3 linked regions of the Homo sapiens genome follow. The protein of the gene in region 1 purifies or fractionates together with the protein of each later gene. This does not show direct contact. Each region holds a gene or a part of one and is shown in the gene's direction. Other genes may lie near its edges.

Evidence for each region. The genes of interacting proteins can lie anywhere in the genome.
Region 2: the proteins of CPLX3 (region 1) and HEPHL1 purify together in Homo sapiens (affinity purification with mass spectrometry; 2 studies listed by BioGRID and IntAct, with this or other methods). This does not show direct contact.
Region 3: the proteins of CPLX3 (region 1) and SERPINB5 purify together in Homo sapiens (affinity purification with mass spectrometry; 2 studies listed by BioGRID and IntAct, with this or other methods). This does not show direct contact.

What each region holds. Positions count from the first base shown.
Region 1 is NC_000015.10:74,821,651-74,829,798, forward strand, and holds the start of CPLX3 (complexin-3), read left to right. Parts: upstream 1-4,976; 5' UTR 4,977-5,053; coding exon 5,054-5,217; intron 5,218-6,383; coding exon 6,384-6,471; intron 6,472-6,481; exon of another isoform or gene 6,482-7,238; intron 7,239-7,467; exon of another isoform or gene 7,468-8,051; intron 8,052-8,148. Other genes in the region: LMAN1L (protein ERGIC-53-like precursor), read left to right, coding at 179-250, 992-1,059, 1,909-2,032, 2,701-2,828, 3,826-3,955.
Region 2 is NC_000011.10:94,065,911-94,073,457, forward strand, and holds part of HEPHL1 (ferroxidase HEPHL1 precursor), read left to right. Parts: intron 1-1,060; exon of another isoform or gene 1,061-1,385; intron 1,386-1,524; exon of another isoform or gene 1,525-1,585; coding exon 1,586-1,840; intron 1,841-4,463; coding exon 4,464-4,632; intron 4,633-7,114; coding exon 7,115-7,254; intron 7,255-7,397; coding exon 7,398-7,529; intron 7,530-7,547. UniProt on the Homo sapiens protein: Is a copper-binding glycoprotein with ferroxidase activity. It oxidizes Fe(2+) to Fe(3+) without releasing radical oxygen species. May be involved in the regulation of intracellular iron content.
Region 3 is NC_000018.10:63,493,515-63,501,061, forward strand, and holds part of SERPINB5 (serpin B5), read left to right. Parts: intron 1-3,427; exon of another isoform or gene 3,428-3,989; intron 3,990-5,605; coding exon 5,606-5,773; intron 5,774-7,547. UniProt on the Homo sapiens protein: Tumor suppressor. It blocks the growth, invasion, and metastatic properties of mammary tumors.

The sequences.
Region 1 (8,148 bases):
CTCAGCCAAGGTGTTAGATACTGGGCAGAGGAGGCCAGCAGCTCTTGTGGGCTTTGCTGGGCTCTGACAGCTCGAGGTTTTAATCTTGTGTCAGAGCAGCTTAGGCTGGGCTGCTAGTGTGGGGAAGAGGGGAGGGGACTTACACTCCAGGGCCAAGCCTCTCTGATCCTATCCCCAGGCCCTGGATGCTTCCTGCCAGATTCCATCCACCCCAGGGAGGGGTGGCCACCTCTCCATGTCACTCAATAAGGTAGGGACCCAAACACTGGGTGTTGACCAGCACTGGCCCCAGCTTGGCTGGTGCTCTGGGAGAACCAGGGCAGAGAGGACTGGGCTGGGCCTCTGCTTCCTTCAGGGGACAGAACCACTTTTAGAAGGGAGACGTATTTTGGCTTGGCATGGTGGCTCACGCGTGTAATCCTAGCACTTTGGGAGGCCAAGGCGGACAGATCACGAGGTCAAAAGACTGACACCATCGGGCAGATCACAAGGTCAAAAGATCGAGACCATCCTGGCCAACATGGTGAAACCCTGTCTCTACTGAAAATACAAAAATTATACAAAAATTAGCTGGGCGTGGTGGCATGCATCTGTAGTCCCAGCTACTTGGGAGGCTGAGGCAGAAGAATCGCTTGAACCCAGGAGGCAGAGGTAGCAGTGAGCTGAGATTGTGCCACTGCACTCCAGCCTGGCCGCAGAGCAAGACTCCATCTCAAATAAATAAATAAGAAGGGAGAAGTATTTTGAGAAAACCCTGAAGTGGCCACTGTTGGGAGGAAACAACCACCCCTGGGGAGAGGGGCGTGAGTGGAGGGGGAATGTGGATGCCCTTATGGATGAGGTCAGAGAAACACAGTGTGTCCAAATAAGGAGGCCCTGGTAATCTGGGAAGGCCTCTGGAAGGAAGAGGCTGCAGTGCCGCTGGGAAGGTGGGCTCTGAGAAGAGAGGGGCTATGTCCTGGGCCCTAGACAAGAGGCTGCCCCTCTGCAGGACTCTGCCAAGGTCGGTGCCCTGCTCCATGGACAGTGGACTCTGCTCCAGGCCCTGCAAGAGATGAGGTAAGGGACTGGGTGGGGACCCCTCCACCACCTTGTTTCTCCGCCTTAAGTTCCTCCATTAGCCCTTCATTCCTTCCATCATTTCCTGAGCGCCCAGCACACAGCCTGTCAATTGGAAGGGCTACTGGTGGAGTTAGGTTTGTTGAGTTGACTTGAATTTAATTGAATCAAGTTTAATGTTTTGCAAGTCCTAGTTAAAAAGCAATTCTCTCCTGGAGAAGCCCATCATGAAGGCCCCCTCAGACACTCCCACCCTCAGGAGGCTTAAGAAATCTGAGCATTCCTTCAATGGCAGCTCCTAGGATGAGGGGCATTTTGTTGGGGGCTCTTGGAGAGGGAGCACAGCCAAGATCAGACCAGTTGGATGAGACAGTCCCTGACTTGGTTTTGTGCCCCCATTAACTTCCCGGTATCCCACTCTAGGCCAGGCCTCTGGAGCCCTGGGGGTTGGGGGAGTCCTGGGGATGCTGTGGAGGAGGCATGCATCCCAGGCTGAAGCCTAAAGCCCCACCTGTACACACACAGCTAGATGCCTAGGGTTGGGGGTGGAGAGGCACCTAGATGAGAAGAAGGAAAGGAGTTAAATCCCCAGGGGCTGGGAATGGAAGGCAGAGCCGGGGAGCCTGGGGTTGACACAGATAGCTTTAGGGAGATCTTTATCTGAGCTAAAGTCTCAGGATCTAGGAAGAAGGTTGGAGGTGAAAAGACCAGCCCCCAAGAAGGGGCCCCATGGATGGTACCTGTTCCCCATCCATGTGCTGCCCTTGGGGAGATGGGAAATGATTAGGCCATCTGGGTGGAAGCAGAAGAGGTAATGAGTCATCTTACTTGGTTACCACCCCCGGTTAGGGATGCAGCTGTCCGCATGGCTGCAGAAGCCCAGGTCTCCTACCTGCCTGTGGGCATTGAGCATCATTTCTTAGAGCTGGACCACATCCTGGGCCTCCTGCAGGAGGAGCTTCGGGGCCCGGCGGTGAGGGGAAAGTAGTGGGCAGCATGGGGTCCCCAACCTTGACGTCTGGGCTCAGCCACCCTTCTTCCAGCACTTCAGCAGCCCCAAGCCCTCCTGCCTTTGCCCTCCCCTCCCAGGACTGCTGGCAAGCACATCTGTGCCTGCGTCAGTGTCTGTGTGTCCGTGCATACGTGCCACCACACATCTCATCTTTTCTCTGTCCTCTCTCCTCTCTGAAGAGTCCCACAGACTCAGCAGCAGCAGGGCCCTGGACACCCCTCGATCCAATATCCAATGACCAGAGGGGAAACAGGGTGGGCTGTGTCCAAGATCACTGAGTCCAGTGGTAGTCAGCGCTTCCCCATGCCCTGTCCCATCCTCGTTCCCTCGCCCTCACCCTGCTCACCCTGTCTTTGGCTCTTTACTTCTCTCTTCTCTTCTCTTGAACCCTGGGCCCCTTGATGATCCCAGGCCCCAGGCCTTCCCAGCTGTTCCCACAGATGCAGCCATGGGAGCTGGGGTGGGGGAGGCAGCTTTGTACACTGCCCCCTCTCCAAGTTCCCTGGATGAGAGCCAGGACGCCCCAAGCCTGGGGAAAGGAAACGGAGCATGCACATGGCCTAGATTCCAGGTCCCCCACTCCTTCTGGGTAAGAAGCTAAGCTAGGACCTTAGACTTTCCCCTTTCAGAAGGCAGCAGCCAAGGCCCCCCGCCCACCTGGCCAGCCCCCAAGGGCCTCCTCGTGCCTGCAGCCTGGCATCTTCCTGTTCTACCTCCTCATTCAGACTGTAGGCTTCTTCGGCTACGTGCACTTCAGGTGGGCCACCCCGTGAGCAGGATTTCCCACAGCACTGGCATCTCTTGGTTCTCAGCTATAACCATTGGATTTAGGAGAGGGGACACTTCAGCTCAGAGGGGACCTGCCGAGTCCCCAAATCACAAAGAGCACAGTGCGGGATAGGGCCCATTCTCTCACCAAGCACTACTGACCACCTGCTCGGCCCCCAGCCCCATCTGGGTCCTGCTCTCACGGAGCTCACTCACACAGGTCTAACTGACCCTGTGTCGTCAATGCCATGATGTCAGGAAGCTGAGGGGCTACGAGAGTGCAGGAGAACACACTTGACCCCCCTTGGTTAGGGAATCAACCTGGAAGGGACATTTGATATGGTCATTAAGGTGACTAGGAGTTTTCCACCCTGACAAGATAGGTAAAGGCATAGAGGCAGAGGGAACAGCATGAGAAAAGGCAGGGAGGCATGAGAAAAACATAATATTTTAGAGAAAAAGTGGCAAGTTCAGTAATGTTGGAGCAAAGGGCAGGACGAGTTTGTGAAATTGGGCAAAGAGATCTGAAAAAGTGAGAGGAGGTCACTAGTTTTGCTTGGTGTGTGTTTGCTGAATGAACGTGCACCGTTTAGAGATGTGGGGTGTGCTAAAGGCCTCAGCAATGAGACTGACAATCTTTGTTGGTGGAATTTCAAGACAAGAAGAGTCCGTGTGGGCTGGGATGGTCCTGGAGGAGGAGTAAAATGAGCTAAGCTTTAAAAAGCACAAGGTAGAAATGCTCACAGGCTTCAGCACATGCACAGGAGTGCAGTGGTGGCAATCAGCCTGGAGCCACTAGGACAGACCTTACATGCCCAGGGGGAAAGCGTGGACCATATGCAGCGGGCCAAAGGAGCCACAGAAAGTCCAAGAACAGCGGAGGTTGTGGTGCAGTGAGTGTAGCAAGGCAAGCATGAGAGTCCTGGTTTTTCAAAAGCCCATAAAGGAGAGACGCAAGTAACCTGTAACCTTCTCTCTGGCAGCAGGCAGGAGCTGAACAAGAGCCTTCAGGAGTGTCTGTCCACAGGCAGCCTTCCTCTGGGTCCTGCACCACACACCCCCAGGGCCCTGGGGATTCTGAGGAGGCAGCCTCTCCCTGCCAGCATGCCTGCCTGACCCACCTCAGAGCCTGCTTTGCATCACTGGGAAGCAGGCAGTGTCTTGGGTGGGGGCTTGGTCAGTATCCTCTCCGTCTGGGTGCCCAGCTCCCACGCACACCTGAGCTTTCGGCATGCTCCCACCTCGTTAAAGGTGATTTCCCTCTCCCCATGCTGTGATATGCTGGTCTTCTTTCCAGCCTCACCCTAATCTCTGTGAAGGCTTCCACCCCTTCTGAGTACCTGGCTGGGAGTGCGCTCCAAGCAGGCAAGGAGGCCAAGGCCTGGCTTAACCTCCAAAAGACCGGATACCCCACGGGCTTTGAACCCTCGACTATGGAGGGAAAGAGAGCCATGACTGTATATAATTCTGTCCTCAAACTCACCCATAACAGAGAGCAGTGTCTCCCAGTGTCCCTCCTGGCCCAGCTCAGCCAGCATCACTGAGCAGCTCTCTCCCTCCCCACTCCTAGCTGCTCCAGGGGCAGCAGGGGAGGCGCGTGACAGAGCAACCCTGAGAGGCCAACTCGTGGAACCATAACTGGGATTCCCGCTCGCGCCCTCAGGTCTCCCTCCCTTTTCCAGCGTCAAGCTCTCTGGGCAGCTGCTGGGTTCAGTGACTTGGGTGGGTGGGGAGAATGGGGGGCACCCAAGGCTGGGTTTTTACCCCTTGCTGCTACCTGGATCTCCCAGCTGAAATCCTAGTTATTAGTGGCCCAGGAGAGGAGAAAGTTGGAAGAGGCTATGGAACAGGGTTCCGGGAGTGTATGAGCTCAACCCCTCTCCCGGGAGAGCGACCCCACCACCGCAGGCCCTAATCCTCTGTCAGCAGTGCCCAGCGGAGCTCGGCGTTGAAGGAGGCACGTGGGGGAGGCGGGAGTGGGGAGCGGGCACGTGGTCCAGCCTTCTCAGCCCCGTGCTGCCCCCCGCCCCCAGTGAGGAGGGGTTTGGGGAGGTGGGGGCGGGCCCGGGCGGGGGCGGGCGGCGGGCGGTGCCAAGCGTGGGGCGCGGGCCCGCGGCGGGAGCTGTCCGCGAAACCTAGTGCTGAAGTAGGCGCGGACGTGCCCGGTGCCTGGCGCGTGGTAGCAGGCGCCCGGTGCCCCGGCCGGCGAAGACCATGGCGTTCATGGTGAAGACCATGGTGGGCGGCCAGCTGAAGAACCTCACTGGGAGCCTGGGAGGCGGCGAGGATAAGGGAGATGGGGACAAGTCGGCAGCCGAAGCTCAGGGCATGAGCCGGGAGGAGTACGAGGAGTATCAGAAGCAACTCGTGGAAGAGAAGTGAGTGGGATCCCTTCCTGGCTCCAACGACCTCCCCTCCCCACCCCCACAGCTGCTCAGTCCATCCCCGGGCCAGCCTCAGGTCCCAATCCCTTCTCCCCTACTTTCCTAGACACGGTAAGAGACCGGGAGGTGTCCTCTACACTGCCCCCAGACCCATCCTATCTGACACCCAAAACCCCGCTCCAGCATCATGCTCCGGCCAAGGGGGAGTGGGGGGAGGGGCGACCGGACGAGGGACCGACCGGAGCCTGGGACGAGGAAGGGGGTGCACGTGCGTTTCTGACGAAACGATAATCCCTTAATCCGATCTGGTCCCAGCCGCCTATGTCTTCCAACTGGGGCTCCTCTGAACTTGAGGCTCTGAAAAAAGTGGTGCAGCCGCTCAGAGTCGCGGAGACAGACCCTGAGATGGGGGCACTCACAAACATTGAGCACTTGTGTGCCCGCAGTGCTGGGACAGAGTTTGGGGCTGGACTCTGCTGCTAGGCTACTTGGGTTCAGAGCCTGGCTTTGCCTATTAGCTGGATAACTTTAGGCAAGTTACTTAACCTTTCTGTGCCTCTGTTTCCTTTTCTGGAAAGTGGGGATGGTAATCATAATACATGCCTTGTATATTTATGAAGATTAAATGCCAATGCATGTAAACTGTTTAGCACAGCACCTGGCACATGATAAAGTCTCATAAATGATAGCTATTATTTCGCTCAATCCTGATAACAGTTTTGTGAGTTGCAAAATTTTATCCCCATTTTACAGAAGAGGAAGGTAAGTGACTTACCTAAGGATATACCTAAAATGGTAGTGGAGCTGGGATGTGAACCCAAGTTTGGCCTGAATACTTTTCCCCACATGACATAGCTTGTCAGTGAGGGAACAGCAGACCAAGTTGGAGGCCATGAGGGACAAATAATTAGGATCTGCAGAGAGAGCCAGACAGACTGCCACCCTGGTTCCCTAGTTCCATCCAGTGGCAGAGACGACAAAGGGCACTGTGATGGGCAGAGGCAGCAGAAACCTGGATGTCCGGGTTGGAGCGCTTTTGCTACACACAGGGACCAATGCAGCAGCTGCTAGGACTCAGAGACCCCTTCTGTCCCTCCCTCGAAGACCTCAACCCCCTTCTCTCAGCCCTCGTGGTGACTCTGCCTCCGGTGACCCTGCAGGATGGAGCGGGATGCACAGTTCACACAGAGGAAGGCAGAGCGGGCCACACTGCGGAGCCACTTCCGAGACAAATACCGGCTACCCAAGGTAAGCTGGCCCCGGCTGTGAGGCACATCTGGGACCCTGAGCTCTGGGTTCTGGACTCCTTCGCCCCATTCTGGGCACCACAGCCCTCAGCTATGAGACTCACAGGGTATTTGGTTAGATCCTTCCTTCTCATTCATTTGTTCTTTTATTCATTCACTCACTCGTAGTTAAATCTGTGCCCACCAAGGGCCAGGGCTTTGTGCTGAGGGGACCCCAGTCCTCATGAGACTGACAGGTCTGTATTTCTGGAGCCAATCTAGGCCTCTTCTCTCCTCCACCCCCCATATCCCCACCAAGCCTGGGCCAGGCCTGGGCAGAGGAAGACACAGGGGAGGCAGAAATCAGTAGATTTGACTGCAGAGGTGAGTGTTCTGGGGGTTTCTGAACCTACTGAAGGGCAGAACTTACTTAAGGTGGGGGAGAGAAGCCCTGTGTGTGCCAAGTACTTGACCTTCATGTCCTCATCTAACCCCCAATAATGCTGCCAGGCAGCTATCACCCACAGCGACAAAAGATGAAACTGAGGCTAAGAGAAATGGAGGGACTTGGCTAAGATCATACAGCCAGTGAGCCATGGAGCTGGGACCAGCCCTCAAGCCGGTGAATATGAGCCTGCCTTTGCTCCAGGGCCCCAGGCTGCTTTCCAGAGTATGGAGTCTGCCCGTAGAGAGCCAAGTACCCCCTTGGCCGGCCAAGCAGCCAGAGAGTATATCTCAGGAGATCCCTGCCCCCACGCTCCCCTGGGCAGTGCACCACCAGATGGGCGTGTAAGTGTGCTGCTCCTGTTGTCTAAGGAGGGGAATGAAGCACAAATCTCTCCCAGAATATCACCCTAGTGCATCCAGAACTGTGCTGGACTCAGGGGAAAACAGCACAGGGCTATAGCGCTCCTGATTTTGATCTTCCACTTGAATTGAATGACCAAATATATGAACATCACATTCACTCATTCAACAAATATTTACTGAGTCCCCAGCTGCTTCTGACTCCCCACAGGGCACCAATCTTTTGGAAATCTGTCACGGGGAAAAACCGGTCCAGAAAGCCTGCCTCACTGCAAACTCTTCTAGGAATAAAATCATTCCTCAGATGCTTGCGCTAGGCATATAAGAGACACCTGCCATCAGCAAAGTCAGAGTTGAGCAGAAGAGCCAAGACTTGGATGCAACTGAGTAGGACATAAGGCGCCCCCCAGAAGAATAGTGAAGGGCAATGGTCATCGTAGGTGCCATGCAAAAAAACACAGATGTTGGAATCAGTGACATAGGTTTGAATCTAGCTCCCCAACATCCTGCCTGTGTGATCTTGGATAATTTAAGTTACTTAAGTTACTTAAGTTAGTTAAGTAACTTAAATTTAAAGTAAGTTACTTAAATCCTGTAAGCCTCAATTTCCTTATTTGTGAAGTGGAAATAACAATACCTACCTACCTCACAGGGTTATTGTGAGAATTAAAAGCACCCAGCTCAACGTCTGCCATGTAATAGATATAATAGATGTTTGATAAATGGTACCCATCACTATTTTTGGTTACACCCTTAAGCATAACAAGAGTCAAAACATGACTTAGCTGACTGTAACAGTGTGACTCATAGGTATTTTCATTTTGTCTTTACTCACTGTGCTGGTCCTTCAGCATCTCAGAGTGAAATAAGGTAATATAAAAAGGTCTCCATG
Region 2 (7,547 bases), on another chromosome or scaffold:
CAATGGCTCATGCCTATAATCCCAGCACTTTGAGAAGCAGGTGTGGGAGGATTGCTTGAGGCCAGAAGTTCAAAACCAGCCTGGGCAACATAGGTAGATCCGTTATCTACAAAAAATTCAAACAAACAACAAAAAAAATCAGCTGGGCATAGTGGCACATGCCTGTGGTCCCACCTACTTGTGATGCTGAGGTCAGAGGATTGCATTAGCCCGGGAGTTTGAGGCTGCAGTGAACTAAGTGCCACTGCACCCCAGCCTGGGTGACAGAGCAAGACCCTGTCTCAAAAAACAAAAACAAAAAACCCTAGCCTGTATGCTGAAGTAGATGTGTGTTTGCAAACAATCCTTCAAGACTGGAAAAGGGTGGGGTATTGTGGCACACGCCTGTAATCCCAGCACTTTGGGAGGCCAAGGTGGGAGGATCACTTGAGGCCAGGAGTTCAAGACCAGCCTGGCCAACATGGCAAAACCTGTCTCTACTAAAAATACAAAAATTAGCTGGTCATGGTGGTGGGCACCTGTAATCTCAGCTACTGGGGAGGCTGAGGCACAAGAATCTTTTGAACCCAGGAGACAGAGGTTGCAGTGAGCTGAGATTGTGCCACTGCACTTCAGCCTGGGTGTGACAGAGCGAGACTCCATCTCAAAAGAAAAAAAAGAGAGAGAGACTGGAAAAAGAGACCTAATCAAGTAAAGGAAAAAATTTAATTAAAAAAATCTAGACTATGGAAGATAATTAATATGTACAAGTTTTATTGATCAATTTATTTAAATTTACTAAAATAATTTAGAATTAATTGTGCTGCCTAAGTCATCAGGCATTTCAGCAACAATTGCTTTTAACTCAGTTCGAACTTAAGAAGGGATATTGTGACTTTTTAAAGCCCTGAATCAAGTTCTTTTCTGAACTTGGTCAACTCCCAGCTGCCATTTAGATGGTTTTAAAGTATTCGGTCCTGGATTTACGCCATAAACTTAATAAGATTCTGCTCCAGCAACATGTAGTAAAAACTGTTTTTCTCTTGGCTTTTTAAAGTAAACAAACAAACAAACAAAACAGTTCTCATAAATTCCTTTTAATCAATTCCTTTTCTTTCCATCTTACTACATGCTTTTGTCACTTCATTAAGTAGATACTATGTGCCAGTTTTTCTGCTAGGTCCTGATAACTGTTAAGATGAACAAGACAGGGTTTCTAGTTCCAAGGAGCACAGAATCTGGTGAAGACAGCAGATATGCCAGTGAAGGATTATGACAGAAGGTGACTGAGCCTCCTGTAAATATGAGCAGCACTCTGTTTTCTCCTGACCTCATATTGCGTTCCCACAGCAGCTCCGAGGCTGTTCTCAGTGTATGCTGATCTTCACTTTTATTGAGTGTTTTCTCTGGAAAAAGGCCAATAAAAACATTTCATTTCTCTTTTGGACAATATATATTTCTAAGAGCCAGGTTTTTCTGCACCAAAACCTTACAACCAATGGTCTGCACTGGTTTTCCAGCCATGCTTAAGCCCGTATTACCAACATTTCTGGTCCCAGTCGCCTCTGCAGGGGAGTCTCTTCCACTAGCGTGTTTCTGTTTCCAGCCCTCAATGGATACCTCTTCGGAAACTTCCCGGAGCCTGATATGTGTGTTGGAGAATCTGTGTCCTGGCACCTATTTGGAATGGGGAATGAAATAGACATCCATTCTATCTATTTCTATGGTAACACCTTCATCAGCAGAGGGCATCGGACTGATGTCGTCAACCTGTTCCCAGCCACCTTCCTTACAACAGAAATGATAGCCGAGAATCCTGGGAAGTGGATGATAACCTGCCAGGTCAGCGACCACCTACAAGGTAAAAAGGATAAAGACCAGAGTTGATATGTTTAGAATGGTACAATCAAACCACACAGTCACTAGTGCTCATCCAGTACCTACTGTTAGATAGAGCCTTGTATGTACTATATTTAATTAGGTAATAAATATACAGGAAAATATAACGCTCATCTCTTTGATATTCTATCAACAGATATTTATTGACCACTTCTGTATGAAAAAAGTGGGGAAGTGATTAAAAATTGATGAGACCTTCGAGGAACCTGTAGTATAGTTGTTAGACATAGTTAGACATTCACAAAATGAATACGATTTAAGGCAGAATGAGATAAATGCTCTTTGGGTGTTGCAGTCACTACTCTGGAGCAATCAGAGGGGCTTCCTGAGGAGCTGGCTCCTAACATGAGCCTTGAAATATGAGTAGGAACTGAATAGATGAAGAAGGAAAGAAAGACTTTTGAGGAAGCAGCATGAACTGGGAAAAACACATGTTCTTTTTGAGCAACTGTAAGTAGAGTAATAAGGTTTTAGCACTGGAAAGGACTTTCTGGATAATAAGGACCAATCCCCCCTCGAATTATTTAATTTCGTTTTGAACATCTCTTGTGAGTAGTTATAGCAGCTCATCTCATCTCTGGACTGCTCTATTGGAATGTTCTTCCTCAAATTGAGACAAAATCCATTGACCTATAGCTTCCTTCATGTCCTATGATAGGTGCATGATAAACATTTGTTGGCTTAAATGCCTGTTGAATGACCTGGTCCTGGTTTCTTCAGACATCATACACTATGTCCTTTCTTAGCTGGACCATAATGTTCCTTACAGAGAAGTGATGACAGAAGAGCCTGGGAGGCTCATCAGGCCCCTTAGCAAAGCTAAGGAGGTGGGGCTGTGTGATCCTTAGCTCTTTTGGCACACTAGTGACATAATCGGTGCAGTTATTTAAGAAGATAAATGTATGCATGCAAGAAGGACTTGATGGAGGAATTCTGACCACTGGATGCTAGTTAAGAAGCATTTGACAGTGTTAGAGGTCTAACACCTAAACGTCTGCCCTAAGATGATGAAACCAAGACAGAAAAAATATGTTAATGGAATAGACACAGAAGAAATAATGTCTGATATTTGGATACTAACTTCCCATAGTCACTAATAGGTGCAAAGATCCAGCTGCTCAGGGCTGCTTTTGTAACACATTCTTGTTCCTGTCCACCTTCCACAGTGAGTCATAGCATTAGTCAACTGCAGTATCCCAATTACATTCAACTGAAAAATTAATCAGTTAATATGTACTAGATGCTCTTCTGGGAAAACAAAGATTAACAAGAGAAGGTTTCTATTCTCAAAGAGTCTTATGCTGTTAAATCTGGGAAGAAACTGTAGATTTAAAATCAAGATATTAGCTGCCATTTGAGACTAGTAAGATCGCTAAATTAGCCCGATAGTTGTGGACATAAGCTAGTATTTATACGTTCCCTGAAATACAGTATTTCTAAATTGTCCATGCCTTCAGAAAAAAGTTATTGTAAAAAAATTAGAAAATACATATAATTGGAGGTTTTTTAACAAATAGAGACAGGGTCTTGCTATGTTGCCCAGGCTGGTCTCAAACTCCTGGGCCCAAGCAATCCTCCCACCTTAGCCTTTCAAAGTGCTGGGATTATAGGCATGAGCCACTGGATCTGGCCCCTATAAATTGGTTTTAAAATCAGTAGTTCCATAATAGAAATATTTTATATTCACATTTTGGTGAATATCTTCCCTATTTTCTATTTCTTAATATGTAAATATATATGTATTTTAAAAAATGAAATCAGTCTATTAATGCTGCACTGTAGCTAATTTTTCTCATTTACAAATATATCAGAAACACATTTTCATGTCGGTGAATATAGAGCTTACTTCATCATGGTTAATACTTCCAGTGTCCATTATAAGGAGATTACATCTTGCTTAATCAATACTCTATTGCTTAATGCTTATGTTTCCCACCAATTTTTTTGCTATTATAAACAGCACTGATGACTATTATTTATAGATGTTTGCACTTTTGTCTGAACATTTTCTTAGAAAAACTCCTAGATTTAGAATTTCTGGGTCAAAGAGTATGATTTTTTTAAAAAAGCTATGGACATACATTGCCACATTCTCTTTTGGAAATTGTTATTCTTCTACACGAAGTGTATGAGTATGGCTCTTTCCCCATTCATCTACCAACACTGAGAATTATTAGTCTTTCTAATCTTTACTAATCTGATCAATGAACAATAGTATCATTTGAAAACTGTTAAGGTTTGAGTACTATTTGAGTACTGTTAAGGTTGAACCTCTTTTTCATTTGTTTATTGGCCAATATTATTTATTTTGTGAATAAACTATTTCTGTTCCTTGCTCATTTTCTATTGGAGATTTACTTGTTTTCATCTTTATCTGTAAAAGTGATTTACGTATTAATCTTTTGTCATATGTGTCACAAATATCCCTCCTGTTGCCATTTATCCTTTTTAAAAAAACTTTCTTTATGGTCCAATTTTCTGTACAGAAGCCTAAATGTTCAAGAGCCAAATCTATCAGTCTTTTCCTATATGATTCCTTTTGTGATCATTTATGCCTCAGCTCGTGGTTTTCCTCTGTTCTGCAGCTGGTATGCTGGGGCAATACAATGTTGATAACTGCAAAAGTGATATTTTCTACCCCAAGATGAAGGGTCAACAGAGGCGCTACTTTATAGCAGCTGAAAAAATTCTTTGGGATTATGCTCCTCAAGGCTATAACAAATTCAGTGGTCTTCCTCTAAACGCCTCTGGCAGGTAAGCACCCTTTGTTGGTGTTTCTAAGCCTCTCGTCAGAGAAGCATGTGTTAGGCTTTCTCTGTGATCTAATTTGTATTCCAACCACTGCTCTGATGAGCTTATACTGCATAGATGGCATAATGTAGCTGCTTAAGGTGTTCTTAATACTGCAAAAGCACTGCTGAGAACTGGTAGAATATTTTTTGTTTTGTGACTTGACGGCTGAATCAAAACACTAGATCATTCACTCATTGATCAAACATTTCTTGAGTAGGCACTATGTGCAAACTATAGTGCAAAGTGCCATTAGAAATACTAAGCTGACAAAGAATAGAGTAAGGCCTTTACACATATGGAGCAGACAGTCTTGAAGAGGGAATGACAGGAGATGGAGATGACCTGGCCTAAGAGGGTTACCCTTTTTGGTTCAAGGATATCCTGATTTAAGTTGTGTCCCCTTTATGTCCTACAAATATTCTTTTCCTTTCTATTCAGTAAAATGCCATTTTTCTTTCAAAGCCTTACTCTAATGTCACCTCTGAAGTGAAACCTTTGACTCTTGATATAAATGAATTATGTTCTCTCTGCGCTCCCATAGAATATACTATTTAAAAAATTAATCTAGCAATTTATTAGGTGGATCTGGACTCCTGTGACTTGTTAGTATATAATCATATGCAAAGTTGTCTGTGAAGATACTAAAAAATGTACAGTGTGATATCAAGAATCCTTTTTTATATTTAAGGGAATGTTTTAAAAATTCTCTTTGTGATCAATAAAACATCATTTGTTTCTTTAATTGTACATTTTATTCATTCATTCATTCATTCATTCATACTTTCACTCATTATTCTACCAAACGGATGCACTTGAACCCTGTCTAAAGAATTTGTGTGAACCATATGTGAAAGACTCTGATATCAACATTCTCTATTGACTAGTATTTCTCCATAAACAGAATAATGAGAATTAGCATTCAAAATTGTCTTAGGAGCCTTCTAGAATTCTGAAGTGCCTTCTGAAATAGGAAAGATTAAACTATATTCAATCAATGTTTAATGTGATATATGAAAGCACAAAGTGCAAGATGACATGAGGGATGCAAGGATATCTAAAGCAATAAAATGCAGAGGAAGAAGCTGGGTTCACAAGAGTAGAGAAGTAACTGCAAGTTACAAATAAAAGTGAGGTGAGTTGTCCTGGTAGTGAGTTATCTGGATGCTCAGAGAGAGCTAAGCTGGCCAGGGAACACATTATAGAGGAAGTGAGACTTAAGCAAAATCTTAAGGAGTGATAGAATTTATTTAACTGAATAGGGAAGAGAGGAATTTTAGATGGAGGGGTTGATGCAAAGCACCTGTGGCATGGGAGGAATGAACAGATGAGACTGCAGTAACAATTTGCATAGAAGAATGGGCACTGGCATGGAGAAATAGAGAATTGGGGTAAACGGGATATCAATTGCAGAGGTCCTTTAATCTTTTTGAACATTATTTGATTGGCAATTGGAAGCAATTGAAGATTTTGGAGCAGGTAAATAGCAATAACAATTGCCATTTTGGAGATTAATGTATTAAGTGAAAAAATAAGCACAGTCTTGGCCATTGAAAGTAATTTGTAATCACGGTCTTGGCCATTATGACCATTATGGCTTACTTTTGCACCAATCTAATAGTTGTGTGTCTATGCTGAGAAGAAAAGTGAATGAGCCAGTATCAGATAGAGGATGCAGTTCAGAGGTTCATATAATGGGCTCCACCCAGTGTGATTAGGGCATGAACTGGGGTCGTGGTAGTGGGAAGAAAGGAAAAGAAAAGATGCACAAGGAGGATAGAAAAGGAAGAGTGCCAAAAAATTTTACAAAGTAAGGATGAATGAGTTAAGGGAATGAAGCAGAAAAAGAAAATCTACGTGGCTGCAAGAGTGATGGCACCATTGATGGAAATAAGATAGTATAGAGACAGTATTAGTCAGAATTTATATTATCATATTCACGACTTGGAAATTTTGCATTTCATGCATATGGTTTATATGGTAGCCCTCCAATAATTACACTATTTGATTAACTAGACACTCCATTCCTTAATAATGCCAGAAATCAAAGAGCTTACTAGATGCAGAGAATATTCATATTAATATCAGCAAGAGAGAGAGGGATGCTTATTCTGCAGAGAAACCAGTTAGCTCTTTGTTACTTTGTAGAACACCATTCTGGAACTCTACTATTGGTAAATAAGGAGTTTACTTGTGACTGGTTCAGTGCTGGACCTCTTGGGAAGAAAGTACAATGGCTGAGAGAAATGAGCTTGAGTATCACCCAGCCTCTGAAGACTTTTAGGGCTGGTTAACTATTCCTGGGAACTCTGTCAAGGCCTGTGCTGTCTTTTCTGGGGACATGGGTGGGCGAGTGGACTAAAAGTGATAGAATGAAGTTCTATAATTAAAGTATTTGGTGGATATGTTGAGAAGTGTCCTCAATCACATTCCTATGTCTTTTCAGTGACTCTGATCTCTACTTCACACAAGGGGACAACAGAATAGGAGGAAAATACTGGAAGGTTCGGTATACTGAATTTGTTGATGCAACTTTTACTAAAAGAAAGAGACTCTCTGCTGAAGAAGCCCATCTTGGAATTCTTGGTACAGTAAAACCATCCCCCATGCATTGAACCCAGGGAGATGTTTTAGCTGGGCATGTACATCTGCACAGAATGACTCTTCTGCTTTACTTCTTTCTGTCTCTTTTCATTCTCTTCTCTCTCTTCTTCTGGATATTTTTTCAGGCCCAGTCATCAAGGCAGAGGTGGGTGATACCCTGTTAGTGACCTTTGCCAACAAAGCCGACAAGGTCTATAGCATTTTACCCCATGGTGTGATCTATGACAAGGCATCTGATGCAGCCCCAAACCTAGATGGTAAGTCTCACTCTGGGC
Region 3 (7,547 bases), on another chromosome or scaffold:
TCGGTTGATAGCGAAGTATATTGTTCTGGGATTTTAATTTATAATTTATAAGATGCTTTGATGGCTGGGCGTGGTGGCTCATGCCTGTAATCCCATGACTTTGGGAAGCCGAGGAGGGCAGATCACCTGAGGTCAGGAGTTGGAGACCAGCCTGGCCAACATGGTGAAACCCTGTCTCTACTAAAAATACAAAAATTAGCTGGGCATGGTTGTGGGTGCCTGTAATCTCAGCTACATGGGAGGCTGAGGCAGGAGAATCAGACCCTGGGAGACAGAGGTTGCAGTCAGCCGAGACTGCACCACTGCACTCCAGCTTGGGCAACAAGAGTGAAACTCCACCTCAAGAAAAACAAACAAACAAACAAACAACAAGACCAGATGCTTTCAGGCACTTGTTGGCTGTGAAAAAACAAAGTATGGCTTACTCATTGACATCACTGGAAGTCATTATGGGAAGAATTAAGGGCCTGTTTTGCAGGCCAGTCTCATTGATACTGTTGAAGTAAATATGTTAAATAATTAATAGAGGGTGGGCACAGTGGCTCATGCCTGTAATCCCAGCACCTTGGGAAGTCGAGGCAGGCAGATCACGAGGTCAGGAGTTTGAGACCAGCCTGACCAACATAGTAAAACCCCATCTCTACTAAAAATACAAAAATTAGCTGGGCATGGTGGCATGTGCCTGTAATCCCAGCTGCTCAGGAGGCTGAGACAGGAGAATGGCTTGAACCCAGGAGGCAGAGGTTGCAGTGAGCTGAGATTGTGCCACTGCACTCCAGCCTGGGTGACAAAGTGAGACTCCATCTCAAAAAAAAAAAAAAAAAAAAAAAAGAAATGGGTAAAGTACCTCTTTTGTAAATGAGATCAAGGAACTGAGACTGGAAATTTGACCCATTTTATTGGAAAACCCAGACATCTATATGATGATGTGATGTGGTCTCCGTGGGTGGGATCTGACTTGTGTTAGACTGGAAGCAGCACTTCAGTTAGTACAATACTTGAAGGTAGCTTAGTTACCTGTAGCTCCTACGCGTCAGTTCTAGTTTTCATGCTTCTCCCAGTAGTTAGAGTACTTAGCATCAATATCTTGTTTTTGCCAAATATAGTAGCACCTTCTTAATGCTAGCATCCATGAGGAAAAGCCCTGCAAGATACAATCTATGCCTGGGTTAGCCGGATGGCTTCCATTACTCTTTCTTTCTTTGTTCCCATGGAATTTTTATTCATACTCTCCCCTGTCCACTGCCAGAATTTGCTTTTCCACAGTGAAATCTGTTTACTTACATAGATCCCCTACTAGCGCATGGGATTTTTAAGGTAGGGACAATGCCTTATTCACCTCAGTGTCTACAATTTCTGGCCAAGTCCCTAACACATCAGTAGGTGCTCAGCAAATTTGCTGAATGAATGATCAGTCCCTAAGGGTCAGTTTGCTTAAACAATCAATAGCAGACAAAACCTGACTGGCCTTTGGGACTACCATGGTTTCCTATGCAAGACCCATTGGGCATTTTCACTGGGAGAAGACAATGATGACTGTTACTGCTCCTTACCAACTCAAAATATCCATGGGAGCTGAGGGATGGGTAGGAGGTCCTCCTAACTTCCTGAGTTTAGCTTCCCAACTGCAGTGGTCTTCTCAAAGCTGACTGCAGAGACAGGATTGACCCTGCACACAAGAGGTCTGTCTGAGATTCTAGAGACATAGCTTATGCTCTTCACACTCTTGTGTTTTGCACACACAGGTCCTTGAGTTTTAAGCATGGCTTTTTGACCTTCTCAGTATTGTCTTTTATCTGGAGTGGAAGTGGAACGTGACTTTACCCAGCCTCTACTGTGAGTTAGGGAGGGGTGTTGGCCCCACTGGCCCTGACGGCATCCACACAGCCTTTGCTGTCATAGAGTGACCCTTCTGGCTCCTTTGATTAGTGATTGGCTCTCCTCCATAGCAAGGGCTGGCAAAGGGTTCCTAACTCTGTTTAAGTGAAATCTGAAACAGGTTGCCAATGGTGCCTCTCTTCAAGACCCCAGAGCCAGCCTGGAAGGAACACCATGAAAATGTTGCAATAGTCAATGAGTAGAATGTGGACTTTTGTGTCAACCACACTAAGGGTCGTACTTTTTTCATTAAGAAAGTATTAACGTGTGTTTTTTGAGAAGGGAGGAAGAATGTGTGCTATTCCTTTATTCTTGCTATTAAATCATAAAGCTGGGTTATATAAGATCCTGGAAACTCAGCCTTTATGAACAGAATTAATAAAAGTTTGAAATGTCATTGATCTCTCAGTGTTTCACTTGATAAAGCAATAAAATGCTATTCACAGCTGCATGAGGCTACACCCTTCTTTTGAATGCAGATGCTATTACTTCTCCTTTGTTTTCTTTGAATTGCTTTGTCCACCCTAGAACTTTTTGAGTGACATTACTAAACCTTTTCTTATGCCCCGTGGTGTCTCCGGTAAGGGTTAGACTAAATTGGTGAAGTTATATCATTAAAAGTTTAGTATAGTACTTATTCTGATAAAGATATCTATCCATATATATCTATATTAGTATATATGTTGTATTATATTTTCTGGGGTAGATAGTCTTTATTTGGTCCTCTTTTCAGAAGATATGTCGTCTCAACATGTGTTTCAGAAAATAAAGTACCTGTAGTCAGTGCCGATAAGTGAAATTGATGACAGTTTTTGGAGGCCACAACTATGTGCACATTCAGAAACTATGAGCAGTCTAACCTGTTGGAGATTTTTAGACAAATTTCTTTAGGAGGAATATATTTTAAGACAATATCCTCTTTAGGAGAAATAAAGGGAAGAATTATCTGTTAACCTCCAAAGTAGTATGTTTTCCTATAATTCTGTTTTTGGTTACACATAGAGTTGAAGTCTTCCATTATTTATCAGCCAAATATTCAGTGAGAAACTACAAGCTGGGGTAGAAAATGAGACTTAGTTTCTGCCTTGACTGTATTCTAGTTGGGGTGGGAAGTGGAAAGACAATCACTAGATAATATTTCTAACACTGTGGCAAGTGTTAAAATAGAGGTATATACAAAAGTAAAATAAATAACGTTTAGCTCTGCTGGAGAGAGGTATTGGGGAAGGTTCAGCTTAGTATTTGAAGATACCAGATGCAAGTTTACTGGAGTATTATCCTTGCAGGCTTGATATGAAGTTTGAAATTTCTCCCCAAAGAGATTTAGTTAACAGGCAAATATCCCATGGGAGGTATATGTCAATAGGTTATACAACATTACTGTCAGTCTTTTACAACTTAGCGTGAATTAATTTTCCTTCAGGAAATCAGTCATCTCTGGAGCAGAGACAGGAGGCCAGGTGTTAATAGGAGCAAAGAGAAGAAAAGGCCTGGGCAGTGCTTGGACATAAAAGACCTGAACGATCAGACCCTTCCATGGGCTCCCTTTAAGAAGAGCAGGGAGAGACCAAGGGCTAAAGTTGGGAGACTGAGAAAATGCAGCCCACCGGGGCATTACTTATTTCTCCAGCTCTGATCCGCTGTTGTACTAGGGGTCTAATCCGGCCTGTGTCTGCCTCCTTCTTGAATAGCCCAGAGCATTCATCTAAACAGCCTTCCTACAGCAGCTCCCCACTTTAGGTGTGGCCAGACAGGAGTTCTAGACCAGGTTGTCTCCTGGGACATTGACACCGCAGCCAAGTTTATTGGTGCTGAGGCAGACACAGTTGGTGTGGTTGGTTCAGGGGCTAGCATTGGAATAGCGTTTGGCAGCTTGATCATTGGTTATTCCAGGAACCCATCTCTCAAGCAGCAGCTCTTCTCCTATGCGATTCTGGGCTTTGCCCTGTCTGAGGCCATGGGGCTCTTCTGTTTGATGGTCGCCTTCCTTATCCTCTTCGCCATGTGAAGCTCTGTGGGGGTCACCTGCCTGTCCCTGCTGCTGCGGCTGCACACCATTCTTGGTGCTGGGCTGTGCTAAGCTTTACCATTGAACACAACGTTTCTGAAAAAAAAAAAAAAAGAGCCAAGCATACAGTGGAGCTCAAAGGGACTTAGAGATAATTTTAAAAAGACTTAGAGATAATTTTAAAGAACATTTTCCTTTTTAAAAATTATGCAATACTCCAAGCATTCAGAAAATGATAGAGAATAATAAAACGAACACCCATATACCGATCAATCATCTTTTTGAACTTAATATTTTGCCTTAATTATTTCAGATATTTTAAAGAAAAAATATAACAACAGTTGCATTGCTTTGTATGTATCCCTTCACTGCTCACTCCACTGTCCTGTTCCTCTTTCTTCCTCCCCAGTGGTAACCATTATTCTGAATTTACAATTTCTTCATTCTACTGACAAGAATACTGAGGCCTGGAGAGATTGAGTGATTTGCTCAAGGCCACAGAATCTGTTTATGTCACATTTGGGACTAAAAACCAAGGTTCTTATCTTCAATTTAGACTTTGTTAATTAGCTCAGATCTGAGTAGGTGGCAGTACAGTGGGGAGTGGGCAATTCAAACCAAAGACAAACAGAGAGGTCACAACAAATATTGTTTTGTTCTGCTATGTGCTAAGTTTGTTGTTGTTATTGTTCTGTTTTGTTTTGAGATGGAGTCTCGCTCTGTTGCCCAGGCTGGAGTGAGTGCAGTGGTATGATCTTGGCTCACACCAACTTCTGGCTCCCAGGCTCAAGCAATTCTCCTCCCTCAGTTTCCCAAGAAGCTGAGATTACAGGCGTGTGCCACCATGCCTGGCTGACTTTTGTATTTTTTAGTAGAGACAAGGTTTCACCATGTTGGCCAGGCTGGTCTTGAACTCCTGACCTCAAGTGGTCTCCCAAGGTGCAGGATTACAGGCATGAGGCACCGTGCCCAGCCAGTTTTTGAAATTAGGCATTTTATTAGGAAAAGCCGTATAAATGGTTATGTGGGTTTGCAGTAGAATTTACTTTCAAGTCAGCTCCACCAGGAATAGTTTAAAGATCTCATAGGCATCTGTAAAGAATAACAAACGTTGCCTATATTTACAGCCATACAGTCTTATTTTTAAGGTTTGATCTATGCAAATACAGTATTATATATACTTCATGTAATGTGTAACATGTAGATTATAAAGTATATGAATAACTTTTCAAAGGAACACAAACTCTTCACAGGACAGTCTCTGGTTTCAGTGCAATACAGTTTGGATCTGAGTGGATGATGAATTATAAGCCATAATAATCTGACACTGTGTCAAGAGCAAATTTGTGTATATATATATATGTACATATATATTTATGTGTTTGCCTATATATGTGTATATATGTGCATGTGTGTATATATGTATGGGGTATATATATATAGTATGTATATATAAGTGTGTATATATAGGTGTGTGTATATGTATATGTATGTATATGTATGTATGCATATATATGTATATGTGTATATATAGGTGTATGTATATATGTATGTGTATCTGTATATATATAGGTGTAGGTATATATGTATGTGTGTCTGTATATATACATGTGGGTATATATGTGTGTGTGTGTGCGCGCGTGTGTGTATATATATATATATATATATTTATGCATGTGTAAATTGAAAAGTAAGCAGTCCAAATTTTCCCTTTTACAGACAGACACCAAACCAGTGCAGATGATGAACATGGAGGCCACGTTCTGTATGGGAAACATTGACAGTATCAATTGTAAGATCATAGAGCTTCCTTTTCAAAATAAGCATCTCAGCATGTTCATCCTACTACCCAAGGATGTGGAGGATGAGTCCACAGGCTTGGAGAAGGTAAGGAGAAGGCAGGTGCTCTCCACAAAGGCACCCCCTGCCTTGGCAAAGAGTTGTGCCAACAGGTCTGTGTGGGCCGTGAGAGCTGGGCCGGTAGCCCTCCCTTATTGCCACTGGCTCAGTCACCTCCAAGGACCCATGGTTCTTTCTGGGGCCTTTCCTCCTTAATATTAACAACAGCCAAAATTTATTTGGCACTTACAGTGTTCTAGGGACTGTGCTAAGTTGCCTACGTGCATTATCTCATTTAATTCTTACAGCAGGCTGATGAGTTAGAGACTGTTACCACACTCTTGTTTACCAGTGAGGGAGCTGAGGCACAGAGGGGTGGGTAACTGGTTACATAATTAGTCAAGGGTGTGTGCAGGATCAGGATTTGGGCCCAGGTAGTTGGAGCCAGGTTCTTAACTGAAGGCTAGAGTGTCTCCCTCACCTCCTAGGCAGTTAAGGCACTACGTTGCTACGCACTGCCAGGTCCACTATCATGTGACCTGATGTCAAGCATCCTCTCTCTTGCTCTTTCTTTTTTTTTAAAATTAGTAGATGTTATTTTTAGAGTAGATCTATGCCTACAGAAAAATAAGCAGAAAGTACAAGGAGTTCCCATATACTCCCCTTCCCGTCCCAGGCCTACAGTTTCACCTGTTATTAGCATCTTGCATTAGTTTGGTATGTTTGTTACAATTGATGAGCCAATACTGACATATTACTATTATTATTATTATTATTATTATTATTGTTTTAGAGACAGGGTCTTGCTCCATTGCCCAGGCTGGAGTGCAGTGGCATGATGGTAGCTCACTCTAACCTCAAACTCCTGGGCAGGCTGGAGTGCAGTGGCATGATGGTAGCTCACTCTAACCTCAAACTCCTGGGCTCAAGTGATCCTCCTGCCTCAGCCTCCCAAGTAGCTGGGACTAAAGGCACACAGCACTATGCCTGGCTTTTTTTTTTTTTGTAAAGGTGGGATCTCACTGTGTTGTCCAGGCTGGTCTTGAAATCCTGGCCTCAAGCAATCCTCAGCCTCAGCCTCCTGAAGTGCTAGGATTATAGGCATGAGCCACCACACCTGGCCTTCACAATTTACGTTACGGTTCACTCTTTGTGTTGTACATTTATGAGATTTTAATACGTACACATATATGCTTCAAAATTTTGAATTATGCAGATACTATTTTATAGTACACATTATATATAAGTATTTTATTTTATATGATAAGGGTTATTATATTATTTTATTTATATAGATTTTTAAGGCACAAAGTTTAAATAAGAGTAGCAGTTTTCTCTGCAGGTGAATGGAGTTTTAGCTTCCTCTCTGCTCCCTCACCTCTGCTTAGCTGGCTGAGGCCTGTTCTCCCTTTAGTCCCTCCCTGGCTTCCATTCTAGCTCCACCCCGCCTGGCCTCAACCCTTGGCCAGGAAGGAAGAAGGGGCTCTTTGAAGGCCTGGATCACTTGCTATATATCCACATGGGCCTCAGTGATTTGCTGACTTTCCAGGGGACCATCCAGTCTCCAGCTTGCTCCTTTGGTTGCCATTATGTTTTAGCCACCACTTTATTAACTGAATTATAATTCCTGTCCTTCTTCTTCTTTGGTGCATTACTCTCTCTGTTTTTTTTCTTTCCATTTTATGCTTTGATCTTTCAGCCATTATCCAGCTGTCTTGGATTTTACCTTTCGTTCTTAAAACGCCCTCCAATAAACATCAATTATTTTCTTCTTCTTCTTCTTTTTTTATTTCAATAATTTATTTTTCTTTTTTTTAATTAT